Linked DNA regions of Homo sapiens. Each later gene encodes a partner of the first gene's protein in a complex. Links are inferred from orthologs where the notes say so. Each region holds a gene or a part of one and is shown on either strand. Other genes may lie near its edges. The genes, in order: TAB1 and MAPK14.

The links.
Region 2: the proteins of TAB1 (region 1) and MAPK14 are in contact, whole or in part, in a crystal structure (PDB 4LOP), measured with the Mus musculus proteins. The link is inferred for Homo sapiens from one-to-one orthologs. Residues at the interface, in NP_079885.2 of Mus musculus: Val385, Tyr386, Pro387, Val388, Ser389, Val390, Pro391, Tyr392, Leu405, Ser406, Leu407, Val408, Met409, Pro410; in NP_036081.1 of Mus musculus: Gly110, Ala111, Asn115, Ile116, Cys119, Gln120, Lys121, Leu122, Thr123, Asp124, Asp125, His126, Phe129, Val158, Asn159, Glu160, Asp161, Cys162, Leu217, Thr218, Gly219, Arg220, Thr221, Leu222, Asn272, Val273, Phe274, Ile275, Gly276, Ala277.

Annotation. Positions count from the first base shown.
Region 1 is NC_000022.11:39,388,385-39,403,771, forward strand, and holds the start of TAB1 (TGF-beta-activated kinase 1 and MAP3K7-binding protein 1), read left to right. Parts: upstream 1-11,395; 5' UTR 11,396-11,418; coding exon 11,419-11,451; intron 11,452-15,387. UniProt on the Homo sapiens protein: Key adapter protein that plays an essential role in JNK and NF-kappa-B activation and proinflammatory cytokines production in response to stimulation with TLRs and cytokines.
Region 2 is NC_000006.12:36,015,726-36,030,976, forward strand, and holds the start of MAPK14 (mitogen-activated protein kinase 14), read left to right. Parts: upstream 1-12,082; 5' UTR 12,083-12,432; coding exon 12,433-12,548; coding exon of another isoform or gene 12,549-12,774; intron 12,775-13,088; exon of another isoform or gene 13,089-13,185; intron 13,186-13,362; exon of another isoform or gene 13,363-13,435; intron 13,436-15,251. Other genes in the region: SLC26A8 (testis anion transporter 1), read right to left, coding at 3,795-3,982. UniProt on the Homo sapiens protein: Serine/threonine kinase which acts as an essential component of the MAP kinase signal transduction pathway.

The DNA.
Region 1 (15,387 bases):
AGAGGGGCGGGCGAGAGAGATGCTAAGCCAATCGGATTGCGGTCATCGGGGGCGAGCGGAGTCTGCAAGAGGTCCGAGGAGTAGCGGGTGCCGAGGGAAGGAGCGCGGCGGGGCGGGTGAGGGATCCCGGGGCTCCGTTCCAGGACACCCAGGTTCTGACCCCGTTTAGGAGTGCGGAGGGCAGGGGCTGCCTGCAACCCAAGGAGCCCGAGCTACCCTGAAGGCCGACCCTGAGGCCGCTGCTCAGCGAGAGGAGCCGACCCTTGGGGGACAGCGGGGTCGGGTTCCAAGCCGGGGCTGCTGGGGCTGGTCAGGCCGCCCGCCCTGCTTGACCCCTCTCACCTGATGGCTCCCTTCTCCAATCTTCAAGAAGGTGAAACGTCACTGTGGTCCGCAGAGGGCAGGCCGCGTGTGCGGAGTCGCTGTCATCCCTTAGTGGCCACGCCCGCCTCCCTGTCCACTTCCCGTCTTCGTCGTTGCGGTTCAGGTGTTCGCTCCACTCTGCGGCACCAAAGGCCCGTCACGTGCTTCCCCTGCCCAGACACCCCAAACACCGAAACTGTCATCCGAAGGCCCCGCACCTGCCGCCTGTCGGATGCTGAAGAACGAATCCCAGGTGGAGAGGACAGCACCCCAAAAGGGATGGGGGATGGATTGGGGCGTCTGAGCCCCGTGGAGTATGTCAGCCTTTCAGAGCGACCCGCTCCACGCTGCGATGTGGTCCTTAAGAAGTTAGGGCCGGGCACGGCGCCTCACGCTGTAATCCCAGCACTTTGGGAGCCAAGGTGGGCGGATCATCTGAGGTCAGGAGTTCGAGACCAACCTGGCCAACATGGTAAAACCCCAACTCTACTAGAAATACAAAAATTAGCTGGGTGTGGTGGCAGGCGCCTGTAATCCCAGCTAGTCGGGAGTCTGAGGCAGGAGAATTGCTTGAACCCGGGAGGCGGAGGTTGCAGTGAGCGGAGATGGAACACCCCTGCACTCCAGCCTGGGTGACAGAGAACGACTCCGTCTCAAAAAAAAAAAAAAAGTTAGGGCCGGTCGTGGTGGCTCACGCCTGTAAGCGAGGCCAAAGCTCCAGAACAGCATCTCTACTAAAAATACAAAAATTATTCGGGCGTGGTGGTGGGTGCCTGTAATCTCAGCTACTCGGGAGTCTGAGGCAGGAGAATCGCCCGTGAACCCAGGAGGGGTAGGTTGCAGTGAGCAGAGAGCATTCCACTGCACTCCAGCCTGGGTGACAGGCTGAGCACTCACTCAGCCTGGAGCGAGACTCCATCTAAAAATAAATTAATAGATAAGTTAGGGCTGGGTGAGGTAGCTCACACCTATAATCCCAGCACTTTGGGAGACTGAAGTGGGTGGATCAATGAGGCCAGAAGTTTGAGGACAACGTCTCTACAAAAAATACAAAAATTAACCAGGCATGGTGGCCTGAACCTGTGGTCCCAGCTACTTGGGAGGCTGAGTGGAGAGGATCTCTTGAGCCCAAGAAGTTGAGGGTGCAGTGAGCCATGATCACCACCACTGCAATCCAGCCTGGGTGACAGAGTGAGACCCTTTCTCAAAAAAAAAAAAAAGTTATAATGTAATGGATTGGCCTTCATTGGACTTAAGGGAAATCATTAAACCCTGCAAGGGTTTTAACTGACTCAGGACAATTTGGAGAAATATGAAAACTATTTCAAAGAAATGCTAGGTTTCAGAATCAGGGCTGCTGCATGATTTGTAGGGCCCAGTACAAAATGAAAGTGCAGGGCCTCTTGTTCAAAAAGCAATATTAAAAAATAGTGTAATTTTTGACCGGGTGCAGTGGCTCTCGCCTGTAATCCCAGCACTCTGGGAGACTGTGGCGGGCAGATCACTTGAGACCCAGAGTTCGAGACGAGCCTGGCCAACATGACAAAACCCCATCTCTACAAAAAATACCAAAAAAAAAAAATTAGCCCAGCATGGTGGCATGTGCCTGTAATTCCAGCTACTTGGGAGGCTGAGGCAGGAGAATCGCCTGGACCCGGGAGGTGGAGGTTTCAGTGAGCCGAGATCACGCCACTACACTCCAGCCTGGGTGACAGAGAGAGACTCCGTCTCAAAAAAATAATAATAATAAATAGAAATAGAAATAAAAATACTAAAATATAAAGCACTTTACTTACAAAATATTACATATAAAATATAATAGGAGTAAGAGTAACACATGAGTAACAGCATAAATTTAAGATTATAAAAAATAATATTTTGGGGTTGGGCGAGGTGGTTCACGCCTGTAATCCCAGCATTTTGAGAGGCTGAGATGGGTGGATCACCTGAGGTATGGAGTTCAAGACAAGCCTGGCCAACATGGTGAAACCCCATCTCTACTAAAAATACAAAAATTAGCTGGGTGGTGGCGGGCACCTGTAATCCCAGCTACTGGAGAGGGTGAGGCAGGAGAATCGCTTGAACCTGGGAGGCAGAGGTCGCAGTGAACCGAGATCATGCCGTTGCACTCCAGCTTGGGCGACAAAAGCGAGATTCCCACTCAAATAATAATAATAATAATAATAATAATAATAATAATAGGCCAGGCGTGGTGGCTCACGCCTGTAATCTCAGCACTTTGGGAGGCCAAGGTGGGCGGATTGCCTGAGGTCAGGAGTTCGAGACCAGCCTGACCAACGTGGTGAAACCTCCTCTCTACTAAAAATACAAAAAAAAAAAAAAATTAACTGAGCTTGGTGGTGTGTGCCTGTAATCCCAGCTACTCGGGAGGCTGAGGCAGGGGAACTGCTTGAACCAGGGAGGTGGGGGTTGCAGTGAGCCGAGATCGCGCCACTGCACTCCAGCCTGGGTGACAGGATGAGACTCCCTCTCAAAAAATAAAAAATAAAATAGTAATAATAATATTTTGGTGTCATTTTATATAATACAAAAATAATGCCTTACTAATATGATTTCTTGATTGGTCATATGATTTTTTGGCTCATTCTTTTTGCAAGTTCATTTATTATGTTATTGAAATTTATACTTATGACAACTTCATTTTCCATTGAAAGCTACAACAGCCACTTTTGGCAAAGGCAAGATTACAAATAATTTCTTATACTTTTTATTTTGAGAAGGCTCCTTCTGCCAAGGCAATTGTTGCTGTAGCTGCTGAGAGTATTTTATATGCTGTCACAGTAGGAGAAATTCATGATTTTAAAGAATTTTTAAAAAAATATTTAGCTCTTCATATTGGCCAGGCGCGGTGGCTCACACCTGTAATCCCAGCACTTTGGGAAACCGGGGCATGTGGATCACCTGAGGCCAGGAGTTCCAGACCAGCCTGGCCAACATGGTGAAACTCTGTCTCTATTAAAAATACAAAAATTACCCAGGCCTGGTGGTGCGCACCTGTAATCCCAGCTACTCAGGAGACTGAGGCAGGAGAATCTCTTGAACCCAGGAGGCAGAGGTTGCAGTGAGCCAAGATTGCGCCACTGCACTCCAGCCTGGGCGACAGAGTGAGACTCCGTTTCAAGAAAAAAAATTTAACTATTCATATAAATCAGTTTCATATGTGTCTGATTTAATTTTAAATGTAAACTTATACAACGATGTTTTAATGTTTTCTTTGACATTTTCTATAACTTGTGAAGGTTGTACAAGAAACTGAAAGTTACTTCATGATTTCTATATAATTTTAATGATCTGTTTATGCATTTGATTGCTGGGTCTTCAATAACAAGGAAAACTTAGCTTTAAAACTGCCTTCAGAGTAAGCTTCACATAAAATAGAATTATTTTCTGTAGAATATGATGATCTATACATTTAATTTTTATTTCTAAGACTGTGGATATTTGCAATATTGCAGCAGGCTTTTTTGTTTGTTTGTTTTTGTTTGTTTGTTTGTTGAGACTGAATCTTGCTCTGTTGTCCAGGCTAGAGTGAAATGACATGATGTCGCCTCCCTGCAACCTCCACCTCCCAGGTTTAAGCAATTCTCATGCCTCAGCCTCCCATGTACTGGGATTACAGGCATGAGCCACTGTGCCTGGCCTGCAGCAATTTTCAAAACCAGAGATTCTTTTTCTTTTCCTAGCATCCCCATGGATGCCAGGGCGAAAACCGAAAATTCTAAAACTCTTTGAAGAATCCTAACAGCTCCCTAGCGTGCTTTATTGCGACATCCATGTGTATGTTTCCATGTTGTAATAACTTACTGACAAGGTTTACTGCCTGACTGCTGGCAGTACCTGTCCCAGCATTTAGGCTGTGAGCTATATTTGTGCAGATGTTACAGGCACGGGCTGTTCCATGTGGAGTCTCTTCTCCCACCATGGAGCCCGTGATGGCATGGAGCCGTGACACCCCCACCAGTTTCTTCTGCTGCTGCCACCAATCTGGGCACAGATCCTGGCCCCCACTGTCCCCACACAGCCCCACAGTGTCGCAAACTGTCCAGCCATGTGGGTGCACACAGGGTGGCCAGGCCAATTGCTAGGCAGCTCTGCTGCCCACCGCCTGTCATCCTTGCTGGTCTGAGCCTGCTGGTGCATATGCTTCTTTGTCCCACTGGACTTCCTTTATAAAACACAAGTTCAAATATAAAATGATGAAGAATTTCAAGATGGCGAAATTCAAACAGAAATCAATGCAGAGCATTCAACCAAATGCTAGGTCTATTCTGAGAGCAGGGCAATGTGCGACTGTACGGGTCCCATGCCCATGAGTGCAGTCCTGCTCAGCACACTGATTCTGGCCCCTCTCCATCTCCCCTTTATTTTATTCTGAATCTTTTTTCTTCTCCTTTTAGTCTCCTTGTCAATTAGATAGCTACACTTGACTATGGGCCTGAGCTATGCTGCGTACTTTGTAAAGCATTGTCTAGTTCACTTCTTTTCTTTTTTCTTTCCTTTTTTTTTTTTTTTTTTTGAAATGGAGTCTTGCTCTGTCACCCAGGCTGGAGTGCAGTGGCGCAATCTTGGCTCACTGCAAGCTCCGCCTCCCAGTTCACGCCATTCTCCTGCCTCAGCCTCCCAAGTAGCTGGGACTACAGGCGCCCTCCACCACACCCGGCTAATTTAGTTTTTGTATTTTTAGTAGAGACGGGGTTTCACCGTGTTAGCCAGGATGGTCTCGATCTCCTGACCTTGTGATCCGCCCACCTCGGCCTCCCAAAGTGCTGGGATGACAGGCGTGAGCTACTGCTCCCAGCCTCCTTTTCTTTTCTTTACTTTTCTTTTTTTTTTTTTTTTGGTCGTTGTTGTTGTTGTTGTTTTGAGACAGAGTCTCGCTCTGTCACCCAGGCTGGAGTACAATGGCGCAATCCAGGCTGGAGTGCAGTGGCACAGTCTCAGCTCACTGCAACCTCCGCCTCCCAGGTTCAAACGATTCTCCTGCCTCAGCCTCCCAAGTAGCTGGGATTACAGGCATGCGCCACCACGCCCAGCTAATTTTTGTATTTTTAGTAGAGACAGGGTTTTGCCATGTTGGCCAGGCTGGTTTCGAACTCCTGACCTCAGGTGATCCGCCCCCCTCGGCCTCCCAAAGTGCTGGGATGACAGGCGTGAGCCACCGCGCCCGGCCTTGTTCACTTCTTTCAACACCTGTGATAGGGGCACTAAGATGCTCCCATTTTACAGATGAGGAGCTGGGCCAGGGAGGAGAAGTGGCCCAGCACAGTTATACCGGTGCAGGGCCTGACTTGACCAGTAGTGAGTCCAGCTTTAAAACCCATGGTCTTAGCCTCTTTGCTGCCTTTTGTTAAACTATTTTTATACATTTGCGGTCACTCACATAATCCTTAAAGCTGTTTTTGATGTGAAAGTTCCCCGAGCTGTGCATGCTTCTGGATCAGCAAAGGCTTCGGCTTTGGTTACCCATCTGTTCTCTGTGCTTATCCAGCGCTGGGGTCTTCCCAAACCCTGTCCCAATTATGTGACCTAGAAATGCGACTTCAAATGTTTGAGAGATCTCATACAAAATTGAATGTGCTTTTCCTCAAGGTTTTTCAAAAGTTACATTGCTGGACGGGATGACTTACTTCTGTAATCCTAGCACTTTGGGAGGCCGAGATGGGCAGATCGCTTGAACTCGGGAGGTAGAGCTTGCAGGAAGCCAACATCACAGCACTGCACTCCAGCCTGGGTGACAGAGTGAGACCCTGTCTCAAAAAAAAAAAAAAAAAAAAAAAAAAGTTACATCAATTGAACAGTAGCAGGGATTGTGCCCTCAGTGTCAATGTGGAGGACTCCCAGGTTCATCCTCCGTCCACACTTGCTTCATTGGTGGCTCATCTGGTCTCACAGCTTTAAATATCCGCTGTATTCTGACCATTCTCAAGTGTGTACACCCACCCCCCCAGGTCAGCTACTCGTATATCCAACTGCCTTTACTCCGACATATCTGGTTGACATCTCCCATGAAGACCCCAGGGATCTGCCTTGCTACTTCTCTCATCCCATAGCTTGCCACCCTCCCCCGTGCTTCAGCCACGCTGGCCTCCTTGCTGTTCCTAGAACATACCTAGCACATTCCTGCCTCAGGGCCTTTGCACTTGCTGTTGCCTTTGCCTGAAATGCTCTCCCTGCTCCACCCCAGATCTCTGGAGGAGACCTGAAACCTTTGCAGTGGGTTCATCCCTGGTCATGCCTTTTAAAAAGGCACCCCCGACCAGGCACAGTGGCTTATATTTGTTTTTGTTTTTGTTTTGAGACGGAGTCTTGCTCTGTCGCCCAGGCTGGAGCGCAGTGGCAGGATCTCGGCTCACTGCAAGCTCCACCTCCCAGGTTCACGCCATTCTCCTGCCTCAGCCTCCCGAGTAGCTGGGACTACAGGCGCCCGCCACCATGCCCGGCTAATTTTTTGTATTTTTTAGTAGAGACGGGGTTTCGCTGTGTTAGACAGGATGGTCTCAATCTCCCGACCTCGTGATCCACCCACCTCGGCCTCCCAAAGTGCTGGGATTACAGGCGTGAGCCACCACGCCCAGCCAAGTGGCTCATATTTGTAATCCTAGCACTTTGGGAGGCCGAGGCAGTCAGATCAGTTGAGCCCGGGAGTTTGAGACCCGCCCGGGCAACATCGCAAAACCCTGTCTCTACAAAAAACAAAATGGAAAATTAGCCAGGTGTTGTGGCACACCTGTAGTCCCAGCTACTCGGGAGACTGAAGCAGGAAAATCACCTGAGCCTGGGAGGTCGAGGCTTCAGTGAGCTGTGGTTGCGTCACTGCACTCCAGCCTGGGTGACAGAGTGAGACCCTGTCTCAAAAAAAAATAAATAAATAAAGTAGCCGGGTGTGGTGTTGTGTGCATGTAATCCCAGCTACTCGGGAGGCTGAGGCAGGAGACTCACTTGAACCCAGGAGGTGGAGGTTGCGGTGAGCCGAGATCATGCCATTGCACTCCAGCCTGGACGACAAGAGCAAAACTCCATCTCAAAAAAAAAAAAAAAAAGGCAGCCCACCTCCACTTTGTTTTCCTCCATAGCACTTGTCACCACCTGACATACTTACTAGTTTATTTATTACCTATCTCTCCTCACCGAATGTGGAAGTCTCATAAGGGCAGTGTTCTTGTCCCTGCTTACCTGGCATGTACTAAGTGCTCTATTGAGGATTGTTGAATTAACGCATGAATCTTCCCACCAAATCTCCTCCTTTCTCTGTGCTCATCATCTAAGTAAAAGGCACCATCATCTACCAGTCATCCCCCTGGGTATTATCCCAGATTTGTCCCTCTTTTCAAAAACCCAAGCATACGCCAGATCTTGTTGACTTAACATCCTAAATATTTCTCAAACCATCCCTTCTGTCACTGCCTTGGTTCTCCTCTTCCATAGCAGATGCCTCAAATGCATAGAGTAACATGCTGCTTTGCACACTGTGAATGTTTCAGCATCCTCTCTGCCCCCTGCGCTCTCTGTCTACCTGCCAGGCCCAGACCTGGCCCTCCTCTAGTGGCCCTGTCTCGGCAGATCCTCCACCACTGGGCCGACGGCCTGGGCCAGGAACCTGGGAGTCATCTTCCACTCCCCTTTCTTCCGCTTCCAATCAACTGCCAGAGTCTTTCTACTTGACCTATTTGGATATTTTTGAAAACTGTCCATTTCTTTTATCCTCATGGCCACCATCCTGGTCCCGGCCACCTCCTTCCTTCTCTTATCTGGGTTATCCCAGCAGGCTCCTAATACTGGTCTCCCTGCTTCCTGTCTGACTCAGTGGGATCCCTCTGAAACACAAATATGATCATGTGACTCTCCCACTTAAATGAGTCCCTACCCTTACAAGATAAAGCCAATTGCTTCTGTTGCACCCATATCCCTCCCTGATTTGTTCTCCTCAGCTCGGCCACAGTCAATTTCTGCCTTTGCCAGTTCCCCCCTCACTTTGACCATGCGATCCCTTGGCCTGAGATGCGCTTTCTATCTTCTCTGCTCAATCCCTCTGCCCTCCCAGACCCAGCTGGAAGGTCACCTCCCCTGTGAAGTCTTCCCTGACTCCCCCAGCAGAATTAACTGCCCCCTCTCTTGGGCTTCTGGCTCCACTCAGTTTGTCACAGGCCTGATGAGCAAGGATATCTTGATAAAGGTGATAACTGGCCGAAAAGCAGTTGGGGCGCCCAATGGCGCAGCCTTCAGAAGCACCTTCTGTGTTTTTGGAACTGTTGGCAGCATCCCAAGGTGAAATGGTAGAAGCATATGGCATGATCATGGGGAAATGGGTCTGGGGAAGGGAAGAGAAGCCACATATTTGGAGCAGATTCTGTTCCTGTTCTAAAGGCTTGGAAGATGTTACTTTATTGAATCCTTGTAACATCCCTGGGAGGCAGGGGTTTTAAAAACAAAGACAGTGGTGGCCGGGCGCGGTGGCTCATGCCTGTAATCCCAGCACTTTGGGAGGCCAAGCAGGGAGAATCTTTTTTTTTTTTTTTTTTTTTTTTTGAGACAGAGTCTAACTCTGTTGCTAGGCTGGAGTGCACTGGCGTGATCTCGGCTCACTGCAACCTCCGCCTCCTAGGTTCAAGCAATTCTCCTGCCTCGGCCTCCCGAGTAGCTGTGATTATAGCCACACACTGCCATGTCCATCTAATTTTTTTTTTTTTTGAGACAGAGTCTCACTCTGTCGCCCAGGCTGGAGTACGGTGGCGCGATCTTGGCTCACTGCAACCTCCGCCTCCCGGGTTCAAGCGATTCTCCTGCCTCAGCCTCCCAAGTAGCTGAGACTATAGGCACATGCCACCACACCCGGCTAATTTTTTGTATTTTTAGTAGAGACGAGGTTTCACCATGTTGGCCAAGATGGTCTTGATCTCCTGACCTCGTGATCCACCCACCTCGGCCTCCCAAAGTGCTGGGATTACAGGCATGAGCCACCGCGCCCAGCTCGGGAGGATCTTTTGAGCTCAGGCGTTTGACACCAGCCTGGGCAACATGGTGATAGCCTGTCTCTACAAGAATACAAAAATTAGCCGGGCGCAGTGGCACATGCTGTAGTCCCAGCTACCCGGGAGACTGAGGTGGGAGAATCACTTGAGCCCAGAAGCTTGAGGCTGCAATGAGCCATGATTGTGCCACCGCACTCCAGCCTGGACAACACAGTGAGAACCTGTTTTTTTTTTTTTTTTAAATGGTGGGGGTCAGGGAGAGATGGCTTGCAAATGAATGTTTGTTTAATTTTATAAAAAGCAGGCAGGTGCCAGGTGCAATGGCTCACGCCTGTAATCTCGGCACTTTGGGAGGCGAAGGCAGGTGGATCACCTGAGGTCGGGAGTTCAAGACCAGCCTGACCAACATGGAGAAACCCCATCGCTACTAAAAATACAAAATTAGCCAGACGTGGTGGCGCATGCCTGTAATCCCAGCTACTTGGGAGGTTGAGGCAGGAGAATCGCTTGAACCTGGGAGTCAAACATCTCTCTACCAATGGGACCCTGTCAATGGCTTGCTTAGAAGGCAACAACTTCCCTCTGTCCTCCAGATGAATAAACTCCTGCCTGGGGCCCACTTGGTCAGAGCCTGTCCCTACAACCCCTTCATCTCTCTCCTCCAACTCTGTGCAAGCCACAGTGGGCTCCCGTGACAAGTGTGCTTTTTTTTTTTTTTTTTTTAAGACAGAGTCTCACTCTGTTGCCCAGGTTGGAGTGCAGTGGAGTGATCTCAGCTCACTCACTGCAACCTCCACCTCCCAGGTTCGTGATTCTCCTGCTTCAGCCTCCCAAGTAGCTGGGATTACAGGCGTGCACCACCATGCCTGGCTAATTTTTTGTAGTTTTAGTAGAGATGGGGTTTCACCATGTTGGCTGGACTGATCTCGAACTCCTGACCTCAGGTGATCCACCGGCCTCGGCCTCCCAAAGTGCTGGGATTACAGGCATGAGCCACCGCGCCTGCCCCCGGCAGAATGTCTTATATACATAAATGTTGTCCTCTCCAATTAAAATGTTAACATTTTAGGTTGGGCGGGGTGGCTCACACTTGTAATCCCAGCACTTTGGGAGGCCCAGGCAGAAGAATCGTTTTAGGCCAGGAGTTTGAGACCAGCCTGGCCAACATAGCGGTACTCCGTCTCTACAAAAAATGTAAAAGATTAGCTGGGCGTGGTGGCGGGCGCCTGTAACCCCAGCTACTCGGGAGGCTGAGGCAGGAGAATCGCTTCAACCCGGGAGGCAGAGGTTGCAGTGAGTCCAGATCACGCCACTGCATTCCAGCCTGGGCGACAGAGCAAGCCTCCGTCTCAAAAATAACATAACATAACATAACATAAAATAATAATAAAATGAAATGAAATAAAATAAAATAAAATGTTAGCTTTTTGAAGGCCTGTCCTGCTCGCTGCAGAACCCACTATAGAGCCAAGCAGGGTCACCTAGGTAGCATTTGCTGAGTGAATGAATTGTCCTCCCCTTACCAACTGTGTTCACAAAGAACCCTCAGGAGTTCAAGACCAGCCTGGCCAACATGGCGAAACCCCGTTTCTACTAAAAATACAAAAATTAGCCGGGCGTGGTGGCTCATGCCTGTAGTCCCGGCTACTCCGGAGGCTGGGGCAGGAGAGGCGGGCACCTGTAATCCCAGCTACTCGGGAAGCTGAGGAAGGAGAATCGCTTGAGGCCGGAAGGCAGAGGTTGCAGGGAGCTGTGATCGCGCCACTGCACTCCAGCCTGGGTGACAGAGTGAGACCCTATCTCAAAAAATAATAAAGATGGGCGAGGAGCAATCGGCCCCGAGGAAAAGACAAAACAAAACAACAACAACAACAACAACAACAAAACGTGCAAGAGCGCGCCTGCGCACACGGTCCGCTACGACCCCCATCCCTCTTCGGGCGTGGGGTGGCGCTGGGCGCATGCTCCCCGGCAGCGCGGTCATCCTCGCCTCCTTCGGGCCGCTCTAGCCGCCCCACTCGCTGCTCTGCGGGGAGGCGGGCGCTCCCGCAGGGGTTCCTCCAAGATGGCGGCGCAGAGGAGGAGCTTGCTGCAGAGTGTGAGGAACAGGCCCGCTCTCTGGGCTTGGGGTTGGGAGCCTGGGCGGGGGTGCTGTCGGGTGCAGGAACGGCTCCTTCTCCGAGTTTGGACAGCCACCCTCTCCGTGGTGGGGTGTGTCAGCCACCTTCTCCTCTCCTCGGGCTGGCCCCCTCGTTCCCGAGGCCAGGGCGTGTGTGCGCGGCGGGCCCGGCCCCCGGGTCAAGGGCGCCGGGGCTGTGGGCTGCTGCTGCCGGGCGTCGAGGGCGGGAGCGTCCTGGAGCCAGAAGGGAACACGGCGGGCGGCAGCAGAGCTATCCGAGTCTCGAGCCCACTGCGACACCGAGCAGACGTGCAATGATAATAACAGCAGCATCCACAGTGTACCGCTTACTGCATCCCCGGCGTTGTGTTAATTGCTTTACATTTGTCAGTTTCATTTTCGTAGCAGCCCCCTGAGATAGGTGCTACTGTTATTCCTATTTGACAGACTGAGACACTGAGGTGGTCGTTTGCCTAAGGCCACACAAATGGTACGTATTGAGGCAGGATTAAAATCAGGCAGTGTGATTCCAGAAACCCCCTTAACCCCTGGGCTGTACTAAAGGAATGACCAGTGGTAGCTGTCACTGGGTTCTGGTCCTGGCTCTGACTGTGTCTCCCTCAGCCTCAGTTTCCTTCTCCTAAGGCGAGAGCGCTGAGTGGAAGAATTGTCTTCAGACTCATCCCTACCCCCGGTCTGGACCCTCATGGGTTTGGCGCTGTCTTCCAGGCCCTGCGTCCTCTGACGCGTATGTGCACATAGATGCACACACATGTTGGCACCATGGACTACTCTGACCTACCAGGGTAGGGTGCTGGCCTCCTGGGTCCTTCCTATGCATGGCACTGTTAGAATTGTCTATGGACTTGTCTGCCTCCTGTACTAGAAAGTAAACTCCGCCGGGCGCGGTGGCTCATGCCTGTAATCCCAGAACTATGGGAGGCTGAGGCGGGTGGATCACGAGGTCAGGAGATCAAGACCATCCTGGCCAACATGGTGAAACCCCGTCTTTACTAAAAATACAAAAATTAGCCGAGCGTGGTGGGGGCGCCTGTAGTCCCAACTATTCGGGAGGCTGAGGCAGGAGAATTAGCTTGAACACAGGAGGCGGAGCTTGCAGCGAGCCAAGATCGGGCCACTGCACTCCAGCCTGGAGCGACAGAGCGAGACTGTGTCTCAAAAAAAAAAAAAAAAAAAAAACGAAAGTAAACTCCTTGAGGACAGGGACCTGTGATCTCTTGTTTACCGCTGTGTCTCTATTATCTATCACCATGTGCTGGGCACTCAATAAATACATTTGTGAAAGGATGAGTAAAGGTTTGTAGCCAGGTCCAGTGCTCGCCCTTGGCGTCACAGAGGTGAGTAGACATTGGCTCAGGGATAACCTGGAACCAGAGCCTTGAAATTATTCTCCCAGGAGCACAGTTCCCAGGCCTCCCCAGTGGGGATTGCTGTCTTCCCCTCCACACCTTTACTACTCCTTTATTTTATTACTGCTGGGCACGTCTGTCTTGTTACCGAGTTGGCATTGATTTTAGACGGCTGGCCCTCTGCTTTGTAAGTTCCCAGAGGGCAAGGTCCCTGTATAACTGTCCCCACTCTAGTTAGCATTTGGGAAACGCTGGTTGGATTGTGACATTGGGAGGGAAAATTGTAAATGGTGCAGGCTGAGTTGGCTTGCTGAGAAGAGAGCAGCCACCTGGGTCATGTAGAGTAGGTGGCTGCCAGCTTCTCCCCTTCCTAGATGTGATGGAACCAAAGGGAATTGTGTTAGGCAGAAGGCCAGCTCTACTAGCCCCAGAATGTGTTTCTCCAGGTGGTGGTGGCCTTTTTTAAAGCAAGAATAGTTAGCTTTAAACACATTGCATCTTGGTGCGTGGCAAAGGGATGGCAGGGATGTCATCAGAAGGCCCCTCCGCCCTCATGATGATCAGGACATCCCTCTCACAGGTTGTATGGATGTCCAGGTGGTGTGTAGGGCTTGCTGATGTCACATCCACTGTCTCAAGTCTGGGGAGAACAACTCAGCTCAGACACCTGCATTCAGAGATGGCTGTGAGGGCTGCTGGTCTGTGGCTACTGGGCAAATATGAATGAGGCGTGGTGCCCACCCTCACTGCGTTTGTAGATCAGCTTGGGAGGAGCATATGCCACTGATACAATACCTGGGGCACTGTCTTGTTATTGTAGACCTGTGTCAAGAGCCCTGGGCAGACAGCAGAGAATTTTAGAGGCTTTAAAGGATGAGAGGAGTTTGCCAAGCAGAGGAGAGGAGGGCCATTCCAGGAGGATGTGTATGTGTGTTTTCTTGACACGTGTGTTTTTGTTTTCATTTTTCTTCCTAGAGATGGGGTTTCGCCATGTTGCCCAGGCTGGTCTAGAATCCTGGGTTCAAGCAATCCTCCTGCCTTCGCCTCCCAAAGTGCTGGGATTACAGGCATGAGCCACCGCATCTGGCTAAGGACAGGTGTTTAAATATGTGTGCATGTGTTTGTTAAGCTTTTCACAAGTTAAGTACAATTAGTACTACAAGTCTATGTGTTGAGGGGCTGCAGAGTGGCCTGATTGGTCTGGGTCAGTGGAGGTTTGCAGGAATGGCATTTGCAAGGGTATGCTGGGGCCACTTGGTAGATCACTTGGTGGGAGCATCATTGCAGGCACTGTGGTACCTTGAAAGGTCTTTTGAAGCAAAAAGCTTTTTTGTGGGTGTATGGGGAAGACAGGATCTCACTGTCACCCAGACTGGAGTGAAGCGGTGTGATCTCGGCTCACTGCAACCTCTGCTTCGTGGGTTCAAGTGATTCTTGTGCCTCAGCCTCCCAAGTAGCTGGGATTACAGGTGTGCACCACCACACCAGCTAACTTTCATATTTTTAGTAGAGACAGGGTTTCACCACGTTGCCTAGGCTGGTCATGAACTCCTGGCCTCAAGCAATCCGCCTGCCTGGGCCTCCCAAAGTGCTAGGATTACAGGTGTGAGCCACTGTGCCCGGCCACAAAGAGGTTCTAAGGAGAGCTTGATGTGTTCAAAAGGACCCAGACCTTTCAGCCGGATAAAACAGTGTTAGTCTCATACTGGCTTTGGGCAAATCACTTTATGTCCCTGAGCCTTAGTTTCTCCAAACCAAGAGGACTCTGGGGAGTATTGTTGGTGTTAAAGGAACTGACACATTCCACTACTAGCCTGGCTTGGTTGCCCGCTAACCAGAAACTTCTACCTTCAGTGCTGCCGTGAGTGAATGCTGTTCATTCCCTTAAATGTCCCTGAGCACTCACTATGTGCTAGGCACCCTGCAGGTGCAGGAGACACCGCCTTTGTGGAGCTGATGGTCTAGTAAAGGGGACAGACAGTGAGCACCGAACAGATACAGATCATCTGTGATTTTGTAATATCCAAACTACAGCATCAGGTGGTGCTATGAGGAACAGTCTAGATTCACACACAGAATGTTGGGGGTGCCATTTTGGACAGGGTGGTAAGGGAAGACTTCTCCACATTTGATGAGATGAAAACGGGGAAATGGGGGCAGCATTCCTGCCCAAGGGAGCAGGAGATGCAAAGGCTGCTGTTTCAGGAGCCTCAGGGGTGCTGGTGCAGCTGGGTGGAGTGCCTTGGGGGAGCTTGGGAGTAGCTGAGGTCTGAGGGAGCCGGGGGCCATGCTGGGCTTCACAGGTCCTGATGTGGCCTCTGGATTCCATTCTTCATGTGATGTGAAGCTTTCATGGGGAGCAGATTGAGTAGGGACCTGATGTGATGTGACTTTTGATTGGAGAAAAATCCCTCTTTTTTTTTTTTTTTTGAGACGGAGTCTCGCTCTGTTGCCCAGGCTGGAGTGCAGTGGCGCAATCTCAGCTCACTGCAAGCTCCGCCTCCCAGGTTCACGCCATTCTCCTGCCTCAGCCTCCCAAGTAGCT
Region 2 (15,251 bases), on another chromosome or scaffold:
AGGAAGTGAGAGGACTGGGGGGGATATCCAAGAACACAACTTGCAAAAGGCAGAATGCGGACAAAGGAGAATGTCTCAAGGAGAGGACAGTCTGGAGCAGGGCTGTGTAGGACTTTCCACACTTGTCACCAACATGCCAACATACCAACATGTGCCAATTGTGGGTGATAAACCAGGGGACAAGAAGGACTAATAAATTCAGAGTGTGACTGAGGACAACTTGAGTAATTAAGATTACTATAATGATGTAGGTCACAAAGGATTCTTTGTTTTTTTTTTTTCTTTTTGAGACAGAGTCTCATTCTGTCACCAGGCTGGAGTGCAGTGGCGTGATCTCGGCTCACTGCAACCTCTGCCTCCCGGATTCAAGCGATTCTCCTGCCTCAGCCTCTCGGGTAGCTGGGACTACAGCTGTGCGCCACCAAGCCCAGCTAATTTTTGTATTTTTAGTGGAGAAGGGGTTTCACCACGTTGGCCAGGATGGTCTCAAACTCCTGACCTCAGTGATCCGCCCACCTCAGCCTCCCAAAGTGCTGGGATTACAGGTGTGAGCCACTGCACCCGGCCAGGGTTCTTAACCTGAGGTTTGTGGACCCCCAAGGAGTCTGTAGATAGTATTTGGGGACATATGTGAAATTATATAGGTGAACTTATATCTTTATTTCACTAACCTCTTTAGCATTTCCTTCAATTATGAATGTTGGCAACAAAACACAGTAGTATCAGCAGAACTTGACTTTGTCACCAGTAGAAATGACAAACATTTCTATATTACATTACAATTGCTAAAGAGATCTTGAAATATTAGTTACATTCATCACTACTTTGAAATTATGGTAGTTATTAGACCCATGTTATTAAATAACACAATTTTGGTATTTTTGATATTTAGATAACTGTATTTCAATGTAACTGGTTTTCCTTATAATCCTGCTTATTTTATGCATTAAAAAATTATTCAACCAAGACCGTTTACTAGGTGAAGACAATCTCTTCAACTAATTGTCCTGGGAAAACAGAATATCTACATGTAAAAGAATAAAGCTGGACCTTTACCTTACACTATATACAAACATTAATTCAAAAAGGATCAAAGACCTAAATTTAAAAGCTAAAACTATAAAATTCATAGAAGGAAACATAGATGAAAATATGCATGATCTTGGCCCAGAGCGGTGGCTCATGCCTGTAATCCCAGCACTTTGTGAGGCCAAAGCAAGCGGATCACTTGAGGTCAGGAATTTGAGACCAGCCTGACCAATTTGATGAAACCCCGTCTCTACTAAAAATGCAAAAATTAGCTGGGTGTGGTGGCGCACACCTGTAATCCCAGATACTCGGGAGATGAGGCAGGAGAATCGCTTGAACTTGGGAGGTGGAGGTTGCAGTGAGCGGAGATTGTGCCACTGCATGGTAGCCTGGGTGACAGTGAGACTTTGCCTCAAAAAGAAAGAAAGAAGGAAAGAAGAATGGAAGGAAGGAAGGAGAAAAGAAAAGAAAAGAAAAGATGCATGATCTTGTATGATCTTGAATTTGACAAGTTTCTTAAATATGGCACCAAAAGTCCAGGCAACAAAAGAAAATACAGATAAATTGGATTTCATCAAAATTAAAAACTCTTCTACATCAGGTGCGGTGGCTCACGTCTGTAATCCCAGCACTTTGGGAGGCCGAGGCAGGTGGATCACCTGAGGTCAGGAGTTCAAAACCAGCCTGGCCAACATGGTGAAACCCCACCTCTATTAAAAATACAAAAATTAGCTGGGCGTGGTGGCACCTGCCTGTAGTCCCCACTACTCAGGAGGCTGAGGCAGGAGAATTGCTCGAACCTGGGAGGCAGGGGCTGCAGTGAGCAGAGATCATGCCATCGCACTCCAGCCTGGGCAACAAGAGTGAAATTCCGTCTCAACAAAACAAAACAAAACAAAACAAAACACCAAAAAACTTTTCTACATCAAAGGACACTGTATCAACAGAGTGAAAAGACAACCTGCAGAATGGGAGAAAATATTTACAAAATTATATAAGATTTACAAACATCTATCTGATAGAAATTTAATATCCAGAATACATGAAGAACTCCTATAACTCAACAACAAAAAGACAAACAACCTAATTTTACAAAGGACAAAGGAAATGAATAGACATTTCTCCAAAGAAGATATACAATTAACCAATAAACACACCAAAAGATACTCATCACCTTTAGTCATCAGGAAAATGCAGAACAAAAGCAAAAACAAAAAACCACGATGAGATATCATTTCATACCTAATAGGTTGGCTATAATTTAAAAAAATGGAAAATAACAAATGTTGGAGAGCACATGGAAAAATTGTACATTGCCAGTGAAAATGTAAAGTGGTGCAGCTACTGTGGAAAACAGTTTGGCAGTTCCTTAAAAAGTTAAATTTACCACAGATTTATGATGTGATTCAACAATTCTAGTCCTAGTTATAGGACTTCAAACAGATCTCCTGTGCCAATGTTCATGGCAGCATTATTTACAGTAGCCTAATGGCGGTAGAAACAACTCAAATGTCTGTTAACGAATGGATAAACAAAAATGTGGTATATAAATACAATGGAATATTATTCAGCCATAAAATGAAATGAAGTTCTAATACATGCTACAATATGGATGAATCTTGAAAACATTATGCTAAGTGAAAGAAGTCAGACACAAAAAGACAAACATATTGTATGATTCTACTTAAGTGAAATAGCTAGAATAGGCAAATTCATAGAGACAGAAAGCAGAAGAGAGGTTACTTGGGCTGAGGGGTGGGGAAATAGGGAATTATTGCTTAACAGAATTTCTGTTTGAGGTGATGAAAAAGTTTTGGAAATAGCGGTGATGGTTTCACAACATTGCGAATGTCAATCATGCCACTGAATTGTATATTTAAAAATGGTCAAAATAGCCAATTTTATGTTATACATATTTCACCACAATAAAAAACATTTAAAAAATTATTCTGAAAGATGTTGATTAACTTTATCAGACTGCTAGAAGGTTCAAAGCACAAAAACAGGGTAAGAGCCCCTGAACTGTAGGACCTAGCTAGTCACAGCGGGTATCAGAGGTGGTGGTGGTAGATTCTACCTTAGTGACCATGAGTACCACCATGTGGGCACTGTTGGATATGAGACTAGAAGAATCTCATTCCCCTACCATTAATCAGTCCACCATGGCTATCTTATTTATTTATTTTTTTTGAGACAGAGACTTGCTCTGTTGCCCAGGCTAGAGTGTAGTGGCACAATCTCGACCCACTACAACCTCCGCCTCCCAGGTTCAAGCAATTCTCATGCCTCAGCCTCTTGAGCAGCTGGAATTACAGCACGTGCCACCACGCCCAGCTAATTTTTGTATTTTTAGTAGAGACGGGGTTTCACCATGTTGCCCAGGTTGGTCTCAAATTCCTGGACTCAAGTGATCTGCCTGCCTTGGCCTCCTGAAGTGCTGGGATTACGGGCGTGAGCCATTGCGTCTTGCTGGCTATCTTATTTTTGGTCGGGAGTCTGGTAGTCATGGTTGATTGAACAATGGAATTATGAAATATCCTCCTTAGGTACCATAGGGACATCCAAGATCTTTATGCCCAGGAAGTTTACAATCGAAAAGGTACTGCAAGACAAACCACAAAAATGACTGAAGAAAAATTGCACAATAAACTGCATGATTCTGATTACAGGAACTCAGACAAGAAAGAGAAACGGACCCCAAAGGAGTCAGGTTAGGTTTCAGTCCTGCCCGGCTCGGCAGCAGGTGAAAGATTGGACACACGCACCGGCACTGGACGTGGTGTCTGAAGGTGGTGATGTTGATGTTCATGTTCCCAGAAGAGGAGGCCTTCCTTTTGTGTTCCTGTTGAAAGGTCTCCTCATTGTATACTTCACGCTTAACATCATATGCGAATGAGTTTCGCCTGGACTTAGAGCTGAAGCCAGAGATGGCGCTCCTCTCTAGTTGTGCCATTCCTGGATGAGTGGAAAGAGAGCAAATAAAAGAGCATTTTCAGTAATCCAGATCCTCGGCATATTTTTAAGGAAATAAAATTCCTATATAATAATGTTTTACACTTGCATAGCATCTTTCAGTTGTAAAAAACTCTTTCTCAAAGTTGTATAATTTTATGTGTATTCTTTTCATTTTTCAAATGGAGACAACAAAACCCAGAAGTTTAAACAGTCTTTGCTGTTTGATACTTATTAGAGCCAGGACTAGAACCCAGGTGTCCTGCTGGGAGGCCTAGTTTTCTTTATATTCAGTTGTGTTATGTTGTAGGAAAATGATCAAGAGGTGGACAGTATTAATCAACAATTTTCACTGAAAATGCTCACTATCCAGCATATATGAAGAAGTCCAGATGAAGGGTTAAGTGCTCAATACAAGTCTTGTAACTCCTCTAAAATAGCAGACATCATTATCCCTTTACCTTTTACTTTTCTTCACGGCACTTGCCAGCACCTGATTCATTATTTGTCTGTTTGTCCATTGTCTGTTTCCCCCATAAAATGTAAGACCAGGAAGCAGGACTGTGACTATTCACAGTTGCAGCCCCAGGACCCAAAAGAATGGCTTTCACTTAGCAACTTAGCAGGCCCTTAACAAGTGTTTCTTGAATGACTGCCAAGTATACAGTTAGTGGCCTCATGGTGTAGCAGAAAAAGCTATAGAAGTTCAAGACTAGACTAGGCAACATGGTGAAACCCTGTCTCTACTAAAAATAGAAACAAAATTAGCTGGGCATGATGGCATGGCATGTAGTCCTAGCTGCTCAGGAGGCTGAGGTGGGAGGATCACCTGAGCCCAGCAGGTGGAGGTTGCAGTGAGCTGGGATCGCACCACTGTACTCCAGCCTGGGTGTCAGAGCGAGACCCTGTCTCTAAAAGAAAAAAAAATCTATATTATCCTGCTTTTTTAAAAGATTGAAAAGATAGAGTAAATGAGGATGGATAGGGATCCATCTCTGGGAGAAAGTATAACCAGTCTTAATAATCTATGTTTTTGAACAATAAAAAAAGCATAAACTCTAAAATTCTTCCACATAAATGTAAAAAAGCATATGTATAAACCACATACCTATAAAATATATTGGTAAACCCTCAAATTATATAGATTACACAATTATATAGATGATGGGTGATGCTGCAGATAAGTTTAATGTGTCAGCAACTTTGTTTTCCTTCAGAAGAATCATCATCATCATCATTGCCAACATTTATTGGGCATTTATCCTATGCCATGCATTGCACTAGATTTCTTCACGAGTTATGTCATTAAATTTCCACAACAATACCAGTACTACTATTTCTTTCATTTTACAGGTGTAAAACCAAGATTTTAGAAAATGTAAGTAATTGGGCCATAATTATATATTGTATTTTTACCCTCAAAGCATTGGGTAGAAGTAATATGCTGTATAACAACCATGAACTAAAGATCACAAATTCTCTAAACCAGTGAGGTGACTGGGGAATACAGAAGAGGATGGGAGAGGTATTTTACAATATATTACTTAAGATAATTAGTGCCTCATGTCTCTTACAAAAAGAAAAAAAGGTAGAACTGTATATTGAAATGTAAGGAATCCCCCCCCACCTTTCTTTCCCCACCCATAGGAATACAGACCCAATCTTCCTTACTTTCCCCGTATAATTGTCCAATGTACTTCCATGAGTAGTCTCTTTGTTCCCAGCAACCTAAACAAGCCTAATTAGTCTGCTAATGACAAAACTGATATCCTGGGTCACATCGAGAGTCTAGAACCCAGCATTTTGTTCTGAAAGTGACATTAAAGGAGGATTGGTGTAAAATAGGCAAAATATGACCGTCAAGGAGTGGTGGGAACAGTGGGGCTGGCAAAGGCAGCAGAAGCTGCTTAGCTCTAGCCATTTTTGCCATCGGTCAATGTGGGGCCCGGAATGGCTTAGATCTGATCTTTTCCAGGAGAAGCCATAATGCCAGATTTTTATGTGGAATCTTCTGGCTTTTAAATGTTGTCAATTACTTTACATATGTTTACGTATACATATAAATATATATGTATATTATTTTATTTTATTTTTTGATATAGAGTCTCGCTCTGTCGCCCAGGCTGGAGTGCAGTGGCGTGATCTCAGCTCACAGGGTTTCACGGTGTTAGCCAGGATGGTCTTGATCTCCTGACCTCGTGATCTGCCTCCCTCGGCCTCCCAAAGTGCTGGGATTACACGCGTGAGCCACCGCGCCCGGCCTATTTTTTATTTTTTTGGAGATGGAGTACAGCTCTGTCACCCAGGCTGGAGTTCAGTGGCGCGATCTTAGCTCACTGCAACCTCCACCTCCCAGGTTCAAGCGATTCTCCTGCCTTGCCTCCTGAGTAGCTGGGATTACAGGCATGTGCCACCACATCTGGCTAATTTTTGTATTTTTGGTGGAGACAGGGTTTCGCCATGTTGGCCAGGCTGGTCTTGAATTCCCTACCTCAGGTGATCCTCCCGCCTCGGCCTCCCAAATTGCTGGGATTACAGGCGTGAGCCACTGCGCCTGGCCTATTTAAAGTCTTTCAGCAGAAGTAGTAATACGCACAGAGATGCATTTTGGGAAGATGAAATGTGCCAGTGTTATGTTCTAGAGCTGAGTTGTCCAGTATGGTAGCCACTGGCTACATGTGGCTATTTAAACTTAAAATAAAAAATTCAGATCCTCAATTATACTAGCTAGATTTCAAGTGCTCAACAGCCACATATGGCTAGTGGTTACCTTACTGGACAGTGCAGATATGCAGATATAAAAAATTTCCATCATCACAAAAAGTTGTTGGACAGTGGAGATAGGAGAGACTGAGGCAAAACAGCCAATTGGAGACCATTAATATTAGTCTAGGAGATGTTATCAAGTCATAAACTCCTACGACCACAGTGAGGATGGCTAGGAGGAGCAGGTGGAAAGTTGTCTTTAAGGAACTCCATCAAATGTCTGGCTAACAGCAGCAAGGGTAAACGCATGGTTTCCTTATTATTTTTTTTAAGTAATTTTCTTTGGAATTTCTCCAGCTCCATTATGTCTTTCTTGATTTCATAGAAATCCTAGTGGCTCATTTTCATGTACTAGCAGGACACTTCCCAAGAAGATGCAATGACCAGAAACTCCTACTGTTGAGTAGGCCCCACTTAGCAAGACCTACTGAATCAGAAACTCTGGGGGCCATCAGTCTGTTTTAAGAAGCTGTCCAGACTGCTGGGCCCCCAGAGATTCTGATTCAGTAGGTCTTGCTAGGTAGAAAAAAAGCAAAGAAGCTGTCCAGGTGATTCTGATAAAAATTAAAGTATGACTACCACTATAAATATAGTGGATTATCTTTCATGAGCCTTTCAGTGCTAAATTTGGGGGCCCTGTTAAAATACAAGCACTTTTGGCCTAGCTCTTTCACCCTCCATAGTACCCTTATCCATCCATCCATCCATCCATCCATCCATCCATCCATCCATCCATTTATCTAATTATTTACATTATCTGTGTTCAGAGTGCTTTAAAAGTAAAGAATAGGCCAGACATGGCTCAGTGGCTCATGCCTGTAATCCCAGCACTTTGGAAGGCCAAGGCGGTTGGATCAGCTGAGGTCAGGAGTTCAAGACCAGCCTGGCCAACATGGTGAAACCCCGTCTCTAATAAAAATACAAAAATTAGCCGAGCATGATGGCGTGCCTGTAGTCCTGGCTACTCAGGAGGGTGAGGCAGGAGAATCGCTTGAACCTAGGAGGCAGAGGTTGCAGTGAACCGAGATCAAACCACTGCATTCCAGCCTGGGCGACAGAGCAAGACTCTGTCTCAAAAAAAAAAAAAAAAAAAAAAGTCAAGAATAAAAAGTTTAAATACAATCCAATTTTTTAGCTATTGACCCAAATAATATGAAATCTTGAAAGCTAGTTTAGTTGCAGGAATATCTTCCCCCTGATATTGTTAACTTTCTTATGTTTTCTATAATCACGGAAAGGCAAAATTTACTTCCGAATTTTCAAAATAAGCATTTGTAATTCCATCAGAAACAACCCTACACCTGTTACTACCTAGGTTTTTATGGAGAATGTATTGGGAATACAGAAAAGGTATAAGCAAAGAGCCTGGCCTTTAGATCCTTTAGTCACTCTGGCTAGTGGCTAGGGATGACTAGTAAGATGACAGTCCTTAAGCGGATGACCATTGGACACATAAACATAGGACAACCACCTTCCATGCAATGTGGATAGAGTAACATGGTGTGTTGGAGAGATGCTCATTATTGGGGTGGGGGTGCTGGAGAAGGCTTCACGGGGCCCCTGACACATCAACGGCATTTGACATGAAAAGAAAGGGGCAAGGAGGTGGGGGTGGGGATTCAGTCACAGGGAACAAAATTAACAAAAGCAGTGGGGTCTGAAAGGAAGAGGAACGGCCGGGCAGTCAGGCCTCAGGAGGAAATGGATGGGGTAGGCGGTGGGGTGCAGGTAGCACGTCAGTTCTGGGGCTTTTGACAATATAGACAGGAGAATTTGAAAGGATGCAGCTTGCAAAACGCACACACTGTTGTCTCTTGTCATTGCCATCCACACGGCCTTTGAAAGTAGAGACAATACCTCAGAGATAAGCTCCCAGGGACGACCATCATTCATTCATTCCACAGATACTGACTGAGTGCCCACGGCGTGCCTGGCTCTGCGGCATACCTGGGTACCTGCCGGTGACGGACGCAGCCCCCGCCCTGGGACCTGCAGCCCCCGGCGCCCAGGCGTCTCCCAGCAGCGGCTCACCTGGCTCCTTGGCGGGGGCGGGAGTGCGGGCGCTGGGATCCCACACGGCTCTCGCCTGGCTGGCGGCGCTGCGGACGCGGATACCGGCGGCGGTTCCCGAGCCGTTGTGGCCTAGCCCGCGGGCGTTCCGGGCGGGCTGAGGAGATGAGAGTGGGGGAGGGGACGAGGAAGAGGAGCATGAGCAGCTGGGCTAGGGAGCCAGGAAAGTGGTACCTGGGTCGCCCTCCTCATACCTGAGTCGTGGGATCCCCTTGGTATTTGGTAAACCTGTATACCAAGGCTCCTTCTCTCTCCGAGGTTTTGCTATTCTTGATCGAGGGCCTATTTGGTGCCAGGCCTCGTGTCCTGAACATACAGCAGTGCACATGTGTCACATGTGTACTGCACAGACGGTAATTCACTAACGTCTCCGGAAGACTTAAGCCTTCCTCAGGTCAGAAGAGGTAAAAAGAAATGGAGGCTAGGAGGGTCACCCAGGTCTCCAACCATAGGCTGTCTGCCCCACAAACCCGGCTCTCCCCACTGAATGACACCCTCCTGCCCAGATCTGCTCTGGATGCAGACATGCCATCTGCACTCACTCCCTTTACCCTCCTCCCACCCTATCCCTGTCCCTAGCACTGTCTCTCACTCCACCTTGTATTCCTGCTTGGCCCAGTTACAGTTTTACACTTGTTTGTTTGATGACTGTGTTAATGTCTACCTTATAATGCACTTTATGTATTCCTTTTTGTAAATCATCTTACCCCTATGAGGGCAAGGACTTTTATCCCTTTCATTAACTGTTTTATTATCAGTGCCTACAGCAGTGTGGTGGACATAGGAAGTATTCAATTAATTTTTGTTGAATGATTGCCCTCCCATTGATTGTAAGCTCCACACCGGCAGCAACTGTAGTTTTTAATCACTTTTAAACTGCAAGTGTTTGACACCTAGTAGGCATTTAATACACATTGGTTGAATGAGTGTATGAATATACTGCTTACTTTATCTTTACCCTTTCATTCACCCTCACCTCATCATCCCAATTTGTAGGATAAAAATGTGCATTTCTGAGGATTCCTACTTCCAAGCTTCCTCCTCACCCTTTGTAACCATTCCCTCATTCCCTTGATCCCCCCAACCCCATCCCTCATGTCTTCACAATCATGTTTTTGCTCTTACTTCCCCTTCACCCTCCATTACTTCTTAGAAAGCTTCCTATCCTCCCTAGTTTGGAACATTCTCAAGCAACATGTTTTTGTAGATAAGAGAATTCCAGCCTAAGCTACATTGGATCCAAAACAGCTTTCCATGAATCACCCATGACTATCTGTTTTTTGGTTTTATATTGCTTTCCTTGAAGAGGACTGAGGATACTGTACCACTTGAAATCATGGTCACTGTTCATAATTTTTTCAACAAATATTTATGACACATGTTTTATGTTCTAGACATTGTGCTAGATGTTGGGACAAGATATGCAAAGTCTGAGCCCTCCAAGGTGTGTATGACACAAAATAGAATAATCACGGGAAATGTTGAGAAATGTCCTGGCTTGGATCTAGTTATTTCTAATACAAGAAACTAAGAGAATGAGACAGGATCTGATTCTTCTGCTCATTGTAACAAGCTTTAGCATAGGCATAGGTTGATAATGGATGTAGGCATGGGGTTAGAATGCCTTGCCCATTCACATTTATCTTGTTTGGTTTTTACAAATGACTCTGTTAGTCGGGAATGCAGGGCAGGAATTCTCTCGTAGAAGCTGGAACTGAGGTTCAGGAAAGGTCAGTTGACTTGCCTAAATTCGATGAGACTCCTGCCCTATTCTCCTTACTCGAAGAGGCCTGAGTTAAATGCTTAAAATCCTCTTCACTGATGGCTCTTCAGGATAGGAGTCAGTTTCAAATCTTCAGTGTAACGGTTTTTTAAATGCTTCTCAAAGGGAGATATCAGAGACTTTCCTGAATCAGAATCACCTAAGATGTATTATAAAAATGCATGCTCTTGATCAAGACCTCCTCTGACCTACCCAATTAGACTCCCTGTGAGTTCTGGGAACTTGCATCTTAAACTCCCAGGGTGATTTTTCTGCATGTAAGTTTAACTGGGAGAGTTTTAATGTAAAGCTTCGGTTTGTTTTTGTTTTTGTTTTTGTTTTTGAGACGGAGTCTCCCTCTGACGCCAGGCTGGAGTGCAGTGGCGCGATTTTAGCTCACTGCAACCTCCGCCTCCTGGATTCATGCAATTCTCCTGCCTCAGCCTCCCGAGAAGCTGGGACTACAGGGTCGTGCCACCACGCCCAGCTAATTTTTGTATTTTTTTTAGTAGAGACGAGGTTTCACCATGTTGGCCAGGATGGTCTCTATCGCTTGACCTCGTGATCCACCCGCCTCGGCCTCCCAAAGTGCTGGGATAACAGGTGTGAGCCACTGAGCCCAGCCCCTGGAAAGCCTCAGCTTTGATGCAGGGTTAACATTTGCCTTTGGGACATATTTCGTCAGCATCTCAAAGAGTAACCCATATGTCCTTGAGCAGATGGGAATGCAACAGCCTTCTGGCCGGAACCTGTCTCTTTCTTTCTTTCTTTCTTTTGAGACGGAGTTTCGCTCTTGTTGCCCAGGCTGGAGTGTAATGGCACGATCTCGGCTCACCGCAACTCCGCCTCCCGGGTTCAAGCGATTCTCCTGCCTCAGCCTCCCGAATAGCTAAGACTCCAGGTGCGCGCCACTACGCCCGGTTAATTTTGCATTTTTAGTAGAGACGGGGTTTCTCCATGTTGGTCAGGCTGGTCTCGAACTCCCGACCTCAGGTGATCCGCCCGCCTCGGCCTCCCAAAGTGCTGGGATTACAGGCGTGAGCCACCACGCCCGGCCACTTGTCTCTTTTTTATGCAAGTGTTTTTTGGAATTTGGGGGTTCAGGTGAGCAGGTGCTCTGCTGCTGGTAACTACTCGCAGTTAAAGATCTTTTGACTCTTTCCCCGACACGCTATTTGTCAGTGTCGTTTTCCACCACAGAGCCAGGTATTTGCCCCGCCGGCCACGGTGAGGCGCGCGAGGCGTGTGCTGCCAGCTTCTCTCTTCCTTCCCCGGTCCGCCTTCGCGCCCTTAAGGAGACAGTCCCTGGGAGTTTCTGCCTTTGGTCTCCAGTTATTGTTCTCTTCTCGCGAGAACTGCTCCTCCCATCCTCTTCTCTCACGAAGCCCCGCCCGCGGAGAGGTTCCATATTGGGTAAAATCTCGGCTCTCGGAGAGTCCCGGGAGCTGTTCTCGCGAGAGTACTGCGGGAGGCTCCCGTTTGCTGGCTCTTGGAACCGCGACCACTGGAGCCTTAGCGGGCGCAGCAGCTGGAACGGGAGTACTGCGACGCAGCCCGGAGTCGGCCTTGTAGGGGCGAAGGTGCAGGGAGATCGCGGCGGGCGCAGTCTTGAGCGCCGGAGCGCGTCCCTGCCCTTAGCGGGGCTTGCCCCAGTCGCAGGGGCACATCCAGCCGCTGCGGCTGACAGCAGCCGCGCGCGCGGGAGTCTGCGGGGTCGCGGCAGCCGCACCTGCGCGGGCGACCAGCGCAAGGTCCCCGCCCGGCTGGGCGGGCAGCAAGGGCCGGGGAGAGGGTGCGGGTGCAGGCGGGGGCCCCACAGGGCCACCTTCTTGCCCGGCGGCTGCCGCTGGAAAATGTCTCAGGAGAGGCCCACGTTCTACCGGCAGGAGCTGAACAAGACAATCTGGGAGGTGCCCGAGCGTTACCAGAACCTGTCTCCAGTGGGCTCTGGCGCCTATGGCTCTGTGTGGTGAGTGTCGCTGGGCCTGGGGCCGCTGTGGGCAGGGTGGCCCCTCGCGCCCGAGGGCCAGGCCTGCTCCACTGCTCAGCGTTGCGTCAAGTGGCAGGAATTTTCCTCGGGGGAGGGCATTGCTGCCCCTTCGAGCTCTGCCCGTTCTGCACCTCCAGCACCCCTCGCCCTGCACTCACGCAGGTATGCGGTCCACCGTGTGCAGCACTCAGGTCCGCTGCGAGAGGTAGGTGGTGGTGCTGGAGCTCGGTTCTGGCTAGCACCCTGCGCCTTCCCCTCTCGGAGGGTTGCTGCTCGGCAACAGGCACCGGGGGAAGGGCCGCTTCCTTGGGGGTCTCCCTGCCTACCTGGAGCAGAAGGACCCTCTCCCGTGATGCGCCCACGCTGGGGCTCCGGACCCTGGGTCCTCTGAGCAGACAAGCTCGGGGAACTGCCGGGAGAAGCAGAAGGGCACAGCCCAACCCGAAGACTGCGGTCATCTGAACAAAACTGACCAGGAAGGGAGCTCTCTCCGGGCCTTTTTTTTTTTTTTTTTTTTTCAAAACTCTGTCGAAATCCCATCTTGAAAAGCGTTCTTTTTGAATTCGCACTTGAATTAACAGCGATCCATAGAGCTTAAAATACCGACTTTATCTCGGTGAGCACTGTGCCAGCTTGAGTGGTGTGTTTCCGATTCGGTTGAAAGCGTATTTCCTTTCCGTGGAGGGGCGGCGGTGGTAGTGCCTGCAAGAACACTGCAGCTTGAGAAACTGGCAGGCTCACTGATTAGTCACATACCACTGCTCATTTAAGTATTGTTCGACAAAACAATTTTCTCATTTGGAGCAAGAAAGATTCAGATCTGTAAGGCGCCCTCAAGATCAAAAAGTTATTAACAGTGCTGGGAGGTATTGTAAATATTTTTTGAGATAATTCCTGCGAATACTGTGTTTTAAAAGTCCCTTAGAGAGCTTGCAGGGAGTTATCTAGTTATCTGCATTTATGGCCTGAGGTACACGATGGTTTTCGTAAGGATATGGAACCACATAGAAAAGGAAGGGAAGAGATACTTTTTAGCTTTAATTTACACCGTGAGTGTGTTTTAAATTAAGTCGATAGCATATAATTTCCAGACCTGAAATATTTCACTAACTGCTCTCTTAACTTCCAAGGTTTTATACCCTGTATTTTAGATTTTCTATAATTTGAAAGCTACGGATCTTAAACTAAGTATCAGATTTAACTGTTAGCTTTTTCTGTGTTTTAGTAATTCGTATTGTATGCGTCATTTGAAAACGGGCCTGTAAAATCGTTTTTTTGTTTTGGAACAAATTCCAGGCTTTTGGATGTGTTAATCTTTAAATATGATTTCTGTGTTTCCCAAAGTCACATCATGAATTTCCTGTTTGGTAGAATCTTCTGGGTAATTGAGATTGTGCAATTGTGTCCAGCAACAGATCATATTGCATTTTCTAGTTCAAGTTGCTTAAGTTATGTTGCAGATAGCACCGTGCTTGACATCTTTCTCCCATTTTTACAGCATGGCAGTTTACATTTTAAAGGAATTTGCAGCATTTTACATTCAGAGAGTGTGTGTGTGTAGTTGGTTTGCAGCATTTTACATTCAGTATATACATATTATATAGGTATATACATTCAGTATATACATATTATATAGGTATATACATTCAGTATATACATATTATATATATCTAGTTGATTTGCTAATTTTCAAAGACGTATTTGGATCATTGCTCTTTTAATATTTTATAGCTCATTAATATACTTCCATTTTTTCATTCTTGAATTGACATACATTTCTGTAGTATCACGTTTTCGTTTTCAATGCTATTTAAATTTTAATGGAGTGATACAGCAGAATAACTCAACTATAGAGGGTTTGGGTGAACTCCAATTGAATTGCTTGCAAGGGTTCGCTACTATTGGTGACTAGCTCTGCACTGGAACAGGAGATTCAGATTTACAGTGAAGTACCATTAAAATTAACTCCACAGTTCTTTAGTGGTATACTTTTCTGTGGTATAGAAGCCAGCAGTATCTGACACTTAAAAGTACTTTTATTTTATTGAACAGATTTTTTAAAATACATTGACATTGTATAAAATTTGAAAGTTTTACAAAGGTACTCAGTGGGCCGGGTGCAGTGGCTCACGCCTGTAATCCCAGCACTTTGGGAGGCCGAGGCGGGTGGATCACAGCGTCAGGAGATCGAGACCATCCTGGCTAACACGGTGAAACCCCGTCTCTACTAAAAATACAAAAAATTAGCCGCCCGTGGTGGCGGGCGCCTGTACTCCCAGCTACTCAGGAGGCTGAGGCAGGAGGATGATTTGAACCCGGGAGGCGGAGGTTGCAATGAGCTGAGATCGCTCCACTGCACTCCAGCCTGGGCGAAAGTGCGAGACGCCGTCTCAAAAAAAAAAAAAAAAAAGATATTCAGTGAAAAGTCTCCTTTCCTTTTTGTTCTCCAGCCACTCTACTCTCTCAAAGACAGGCACTGTTAAGTGTCTTGTGTCTTTCCAGAGAGGCAGTTTTTTTTATTTGCTTGTTTGTTTAGTAGTCTTTCTACTAAAGGGATTTAAGATGTAACCTACAGCATATTGGTGAAAGAAAATACAACTGAAACTGAAATTGTATGACAATTGACAATAAACAAATTATAACTAATGTTGGAATGAAAATACCAGAATTTAGATTTACAAT